Homo sapiens: one gene and its partner. The protein of the gene in region 2 interacts with the protein of the main gene of each other region in a biochemical or structural test. Each region holds a gene or a part of one and is shown on either strand. Other genes may lie near its edges.

Region 1 (3,828 bases), on a different chromosome or scaffold from region 2:
CAGCATATCCTATTGGTTCCTGAGGACACGTTTTTAATGTCATGGCACCACCAATTTTGGCAGTATTGACTAACTATTTAAGAATGTAGTTTGGGGTAATGGTCAGTAGCCATATAGCTCTAGAAAAGTTGACTGCAAATGTGTATGGGAATGGAGGCAATTTTGTGGAGAATACTACCAAGATTGTGTAGGAAGCCTGAGGACAAACTTCTAAGCTAATTGAATGATAGACTATCATAAGACTAAATTCTGGGAACATATTCTTAATTTGGTACCTCATAAGCCCTCCCTCATTTTTTGAGAAAAAAAATTTCTGACTCATTCATGTCATATTTTTAACTCCTTCACAACTGGGTTTTATGATTAGTTAAAAATTATTGGCTTACAGTAATGACTCCTTGACTTTAGATTTCATGGACCAGAAAATTTCAGAAATATTTGGAGGGACTTGCATGTTATTGCACATTTTATATAGTACAAAGAACACATATAAAAGAGGGAACATTTTATGTCAACATGGTAAATAAACCATAATCTTACAATAAAAGAGGTAGGTACCTTGGATGGCATACATTTACCTGTAAGAGAAAAGTAGGCTTTAGGGAAACATTCACTGATAGCACAATTAAAATAATTATTCTGAGTAGTAAATTTTTTAAAAGTAGAGCCACTTTTCCCTTTAATGTGTTCTCCTTGAACTTTAGTCTTAGTGATCTGTCTTTATTCTTAAAAAAAATCTTTACATGTATATTTGCATAAATTGCCCAACTTTTAGTCTAGAGTAGAGATTATAGCCACCTAAGGATGGAGCGTTATGGACGTACCAATATCTAGACTACTCTCTAGTTCGAATACATCGCAAGTATGTTGTGATGTACCCAGCTATCTCACAAATATTTTTAAGCATTCATATATGAATGTTGTCAAGCACCAACCAAAGCTAGCTGTACTAGCTTAGTAACCATAGTTACAGTACTAAGAAATACCAAATTGTTGGGGACAGTTATAAATAAAGGACTCCAAGACAGAAGAATTTATGAATAAACAAATACATAGATTTTGTACAGATAGAACTTTTTAACATCAGTCTGTCCTTTACTTAGCTAATTCTTTTTATAACATTTTATTAGTTTTTTTAATACAGAGAAAAGACCTCAAAAAAAGTTTTTTTTTTAAAGCTACATTTCAAACAGTATGCAAAGGTACAGTTGAAAAGTATGCAGCATCCTTCTCCCAGCTGACAATTGGTTCAGTTTCTTGTGATTACATCCAGAAAGGGGAACATAAAAACTTCTAAGTCTGTACCAGCATAATGTCTGTTGATATATTTTTTAAGTATACGCAGAAAGGATCTTTCTATTTATACGCTATAGTGTGTATACCTTACCCTGGTAATAGACCACATTTGGTTTTGATTCATCTTACAAAATCATATGTTAGTTCATAAAGTTAATGAATGAGTACTCTTTGCTTTTAACATCTTTTTCAGGTTGGTACCCGGAGGTACATGGCTCCAGAGGTATTAGAGGGTGCTATAAACTTCCAAAGGGATGCATTTTTGAGGATAGATATGTATGCCATGGGATTAGTCCTATGGGAACTGGCTTCTCGCTGTACTGCTGCAGATGGTAAGGGAAAAAAATATTTTTAAAAAAGATATATATGCCTACCACACATATATGAAAAGGGATGATACACTCCAAGGTAATATTTTAAAGTACAGTTTTTTTTTAATTGACTCCAAGAGATGGTAGAGAATTCAGGAGGCAGGGGAGCAGTGGGTGGGGTAGGAGAGGAAAGGAATTGCTATGTATTGATCCTTTACCATTACTAGCTATGTTGCTGGACACTTCACATACCTTAAGGTTATTTCCTAAAACGGTTTCAGAGGTAGTTATTATGCTTTACATATGAGGAAATTGAGATGCAGAGAAATTAAGTAGTTTGCCTACTTTAGCCTCAAACTGGTGAATGATGAAACCTAGATTTGAAACTCTGATCCAGACATAGGGAGAGGTCTGCTTTAAGGTCATATGGGTCCTGCCCCCCAGGTTAAAGGGTTTCTATTACTTGTTCTTGTTATTGAAGTCCATGTTCAAGTCTTATAGATATTTGCTTTTATTTATTTATTTTTCTGGGTAAATTTTCAGACGATATTTCCAGTGTGACAGAACTATTTTAGTGTTTCAAGCACTGTCTTTAGTACTCCTTCATAAGGTCTTTACTCTGTCTTCAAGTATGTTGCAGCATTTTTTGTTTTGAATAATATAAGGCAAACTTGCCGACTGCTAAACTCCTAAACAGATGTAAATGAGCTTGATCTGTTTCTTAAGTTCTAATTTATAATTGCCTAAAAACTTCCTGTGATTGTCAAAGACCATAGAAGAAATTGTGAATATTTTAAGTTATAACCAATGTAACCTATGTTACTAACAATATTTTATTTTCTGAGTACTGTAATAGGCTCTCGTTGTAGGACAGACTGCCACTGGAATATGAAATTCAATATAGGGTACTATTAAAGGGAATTTAATAGAGTGTTCAGAAATGGGCATTCTTCCAGGATTGAGGGATTGGCTTGGGAGTCAATGCCAAACCTAAGAAAAGTTGAAGCAATTTTGGAATAATTTCAGAAGTCTTTAGGAAGAAGCGTTAAGAACGCAGAGTGTTTTGACTCTAAGAGGAATGACATTTATGATGTGCATTTATGGAAGCAGAAGTAGGTTAGATGGCAGATGTTATAGGAAAATATATTTTATAAGAACTTTATTAATATGAACTCTCCATAACAAATCATTGGATTAAGTAATTTAGGAGACACAAGACCTTATTCTCAAGTAATATACAGTTTAGTTAGGGCAATAAAATATATCCTGGACAATTAACTCTAGAGTAAGTTAAGTGTGAGTTGTCTGGCCCATTCCCCAGTACATAGGTATTCAATAAATGTTTCTGGGTTAGTGCAATACTTAAGAAATACAAGCATGTGTTTTAGGAGTTTAGGGGAGAAATTGCTTTGTTTATGGGGAAGAGAGGTTTCAGAGAAGTTCTTTTGGAAAAAGAAAAGGCTAGATACTGACTTTTCTTAAATGCCATGAAATAATTTCAGAGTCAGGCATTTCTGACTCTTAAGTCAGAACCCAATTGTTAAGTCAGAAATTGGGGTAGAGAGGATAGTGTGAGCATTGATTGCTAAAGTAGGTGCTTTCACGTGTGTTGATGGTTACTTGTTTGTTAAATGAAGTAATTCTCAAACTTTAATGTGTCATACCAGATTCTTAGGAATCTTGTTAAAATTTAGATTCTGACTCAGTAGGTCTGGGTTGAAGCCTGAGAGTCTACATTTCTTAAAAGCTAAGCTACCAGTTGACGGCAGTGTTGCTGGCCTGTACACCACATAAGTGTTGAATAGACACCTTAGAATGTCGGTACTTTGTCACTGGAAGTACTCAAGCAGAGACCAACTGTCCAGCCATAGATAATTCTTATATTTGAAGAGGGTTAAGTTAGATGACCCCTTTATGATTCATTGTATTCTACCCAGGAGTATTTAGTGCATTTCAAGAGCTTCACAAAATTTGTGTTTATGCACACATACATCTATCTGGTCACTGATACTGCTCAGTGGTGACCTGTGTCTGTCAAAGGAAGGCAATCCAGTGATTAAAACCAGACTTCAGAGTTATTTAGAGAGTTGGGTTCAATTCCAGCTCTACCGTTTAACAGCTGTATGTCTTTGTGCAAATTATGTAACTTTTCTGAGCTTCTTATCAGTAAATAGAGGTACTGCCATCTTAACCCTGTGAAGTAAGTAATATATGTAAAGTT
Region 2 (3,828 bases):
CTATGCGGAGGAAAAAAGATTTTTAAACTCCTAGACTTAAAAACAAAGAAAGAAAAAAGAAAGATTTCTGATGGATTTGTTGTCAACACATAGAAGCACTATAAAATAAATCCCACATTGTCATAGACTATCAAAATTACTTCCTTAGGGACCACTTTAGTAAAACCCCAGAAACAAAATATTCTTCAACTGAGGTATTTTATAATTCTTTCCCCGAACTCTGCGTATTTTGAATTTTTATACTTTCATTGACTTGTTTTTCCTTGTTTAATGTACAGCTTCTCCACAGAGGATTTGTAGGGCAGAGTAGTTTCACAACTCCTCGGCATGATACTATAGCGGTGGATAACATCATTACACATTTGTCCAAATCCACAGAATCTGCAACACTACGAGTGAACCGGGATGTAACTACAGACTTTAGGTGACAATGATGTGTCCATATAAGTTCATCAATTGCAACAAAGATACCAAATTCTGCTGGGTGATAATGGAGGAGTCTGTGCACCTGTGGGGCAGGGGGTACCTGGGAAATCTCTGCAAAATTTTGCTCAGTTTTGCTGTGAACCTCAAACTGATCTTAAAAAAAAACCCTCTCTTTCTAAAAAATGTACAGCTTCTCCGTTGTTAACTTATTCCGATATGGGAGTCTACAAATAAAATCTGAATAAAAATCAAAATTAAGTAAAAACTTTTAGTCCTTAATTTTGTAGTTTACAAAACTCAGTCTTTGGACTATTTAAATGTAATTCATAGATTCAAAAGGAGGGAGGGAAAATAACTGGTCTCAGAGAATAAGCAAGGCTAATATTATAAGAAATCTCCTGGCCTAATCAGCTCTTACCAATGATATGGTTCACTCATGCTCTGCTGAGACACAAATCAGAATTTTTTTTCCAGCCCATGTTCACGTACAGGAAACCAACAGGACTGTAAACACAGCAACAACAATCAACAAACGCAGACGTTCTGGACGGTGAAAGGGCAAGCGGCAGGAGAGTGATAATAAGGCCCGTGGCGGATATCGGAGGTCAGGGTGGAGCGGGCTCCGGGGCTCTGCCTCCGAGGGGCACTGTTTTCTGCGCCCTGTGAATCCACTCCACTCCACTTCCCCCCGTGGCCAGCTGAGCTCTTTGGTGATATGAAAACAATCTGAACATATAATCGGCACTGTGTGGCAAGGACATTTTAGGCCTAGGACAATCCTGACCTGGCCAGCAGGAGGATCAGTCATCAAGGGCGTATGCCTATAAATCTGAAAGTCAGGAAGGCTCTCCCACTTGGAACCAGAACCTCATCCTGCAAAAATGTTTGAAGGAGATTCTTCGACCCAGTCATCTGGGACTGTGCTTGAGATAACGAGACCGTGGGGACCCATCAAGGAATTAACTGATGTAATTTAGATATCATCTCTATTATGGTCCCAATCTCCTTAATAATGGAGATGGGAAGGGCAGGAAGAGAATCAGTGGATATCAGTGGAACAATGCCACTCAGAGCAACGTGGTTTTCAACTCAATTTCGGAGCAGAAAACAATTCTTTGGAGTCAACAGTCCTTTGGACATTTATAGATATACATAGCATTTTCTTTTCTAAAAGTAGAGTTCTTGGAGAAGATGCTATCCACTAAGAGAAAACCCCAACAATTCCAGATTTGGGTTTCCTCGGCTCTTCCAGGGTTGTGCTCTTGCCTGCTTTTGTAATTTCTCCTTCATTATCCACTCCAGCCTGGCCAACAGCCCTATTGCTCTGATGCACTAGGATCTCTGTGTGTTTTCATGGATTGTCCCTCAATCTTAAGAGGTAACAGCAGTAAAGAGAAAATGGTGGTGAAAACATCTAACAAATTTAACTGCGAACAAACAGATTAGATGATATGCGAGAACTTTTCAAGCTCTAAATTCTATGATCTATGGCGAACATACATTCACCAGTTATCCCAAACTCATTTAACCAATAAACCCCAAATGGGTTTTCTGTTGCTGGGGCATACGTGTCCCCAGAAAAACCATGTTAGGGATGGTAGCTGTGTTCCCAGCCTGGCTTCAGACCCTTAACTTTATGCATAGGGTGCTGAAATACTACATATTCACATTGGAAAAAAAGTATAGACAACAAAATCTTCAAAACACTAGTGACTGAACACAAAATCTGATAAATTTCAGTGACCCACAATGTGTTACTGATTTCTAATGCTTGTAGTAAAAGGTGAACAGGGGGAATGCAGGTTCTGAGAATTTCTGGTACTCTCGAAACTTCAGAGGTTAATGGCACTGAAAAATTAGAGTTAACTCTAATTTTCACCGAAGTGGTGATGGCTTTCCTTCCCCTTCATACAACTATCACCACTTTCATATATTCCAGGAGAGACTAGTGCCGTTTTCCGACTCACACGTTTCCAGTGGGTAAAAGCTGGATCAGAGATGGGAGTGAGGGTGTTGAAGAGAAGGTAAGGGTATGATCAGAAAAGAAAGTGTATTTGAATAAAGTTAACTCCGCTGTCGTGATGAAAACAGGGAAATAAGAACAACATAATGCACTGGTTCCTTGCGGGGAACACAAGAGAAGATGCCAGCTATGCCCTATATCTGCCCCCCAGGTGACACCCTGCGGCTGGAGCAGCCCAGCTGCTGGGCACATGGCTGGGTTATGCTGTGGCCTAGGGAGGGGGGGACAGGATGGTTAATGTGTAACAGCTGTTTACGTGAATGGGGCCTTGGTAAATTGTCTATTCCTATCTTAGGGAGTTTCTGCGGTGATTTCTACTCCTTTTACTCATATATTTATGAAAACTAGTGAAAAACAAAATTGTCTAATTAAAATATTGTCTACTTTTCTTCCCACTACTGGAAGCACCAAAGATGGCAAAATGACTAAAATTCTGAACAGAAGAGGAAGAAAAATAGAATAAAGATCGAAGTAGAAAAATTAAAACTGTAACGACGTTGTGCTAAGTTAAACAATAGTCATTCCTGGCCGGACGCAGTGGCGTGAGCCTGTAATCCCAGCACTTTGGGTGGCCAAGGCAGGCAGATCACTTGATGTCAGGAGTTTGAGACTAGCCTGGCCAACATGGTGAAACCCCAGCTCCACTAAAAATACAAAAAAAAAATATTAGCCAGGTGTGGTGGCGGAGACCTGTAATCCCAGCTACTCTGGAGGCTGACACAGGAGAATTGATTGAACCCAGGAGACGGAGAGGTTGCAGTGAGCCGAGATCTCGCCACTGCACTCCAGCCTGGGTGACAGAAAAAGATACTGTCTTAAAAAAAAAAAAAAATCATTCCCTAGAATAGTTCATTTTTGATATAAGATGGGAAGCAGAAAGTGAAGGATTGGTTTGTGAAAAAGTTACAGAAAGCTGCTTCATGATGCAAGACATTGTACCCTCTTCATTTTCCTTGTCTAACTCACCTTCGTAAATAGGAGTGAGGCAAAGACAGCAGAGCTGCTATCTTTTAGTTTGCTACGTTTGATATACTACGTTTGATATACTACATTTGATAGCCAGTATTTAGCCAGTATTCATAGTCAAGTAAAATATCAATTTGAAATCCAACATATAAAGTAGTTACTCTCTGAAGACACAGAGAGGCAACAAATTATATGCTAAAGCAAGCACTGAGCATTGTTTTTGTATTTAAACAGATTCTTATCCCAGGGAAGCCCTCCTCCAAGCTGATCAGAGGTAAGCTCTCAAATAGAGGAACTAACCATGATTCAGCACATTTAAAAAGGATTTATACCCATTCTTAGAAGGACACCCAGAGGAAACACCATCTGAGGTCTGAACAATAGTATCTGCTTGCCCTTTGATCTTAGTTTAA

The links.
Region 1: the proteins of BMP6 (region 2) and ACVR2A form a complex in vitro, tested with the Homo sapiens proteins (one study listed by BioGRID).

Annotation. Positions count from the first base shown.
Region 1 is NC_000002.12:147,921,484-147,925,311, forward strand, and holds part of ACVR2A (activin receptor type-2A isoform 1 precursor), read left to right. Parts: intron 1-1,489; coding exon 1,490-1,628; intron 1,629-3,828. UniProt on the Homo sapiens protein: On ligand binding, forms a receptor complex consisting of two type II and two type I transmembrane serine/threonine kinases.
Region 2 is NC_000006.12:7,732,353-7,736,180, reverse strand, and holds part of BMP6 (bone morphogenetic protein 6 preproprotein), read right to left. Parts: intron 1-3,828. UniProt on the Homo sapiens protein: Growth factor of the TGF-beta superfamily that plays essential roles in many developmental processes including cartilage and bone formation.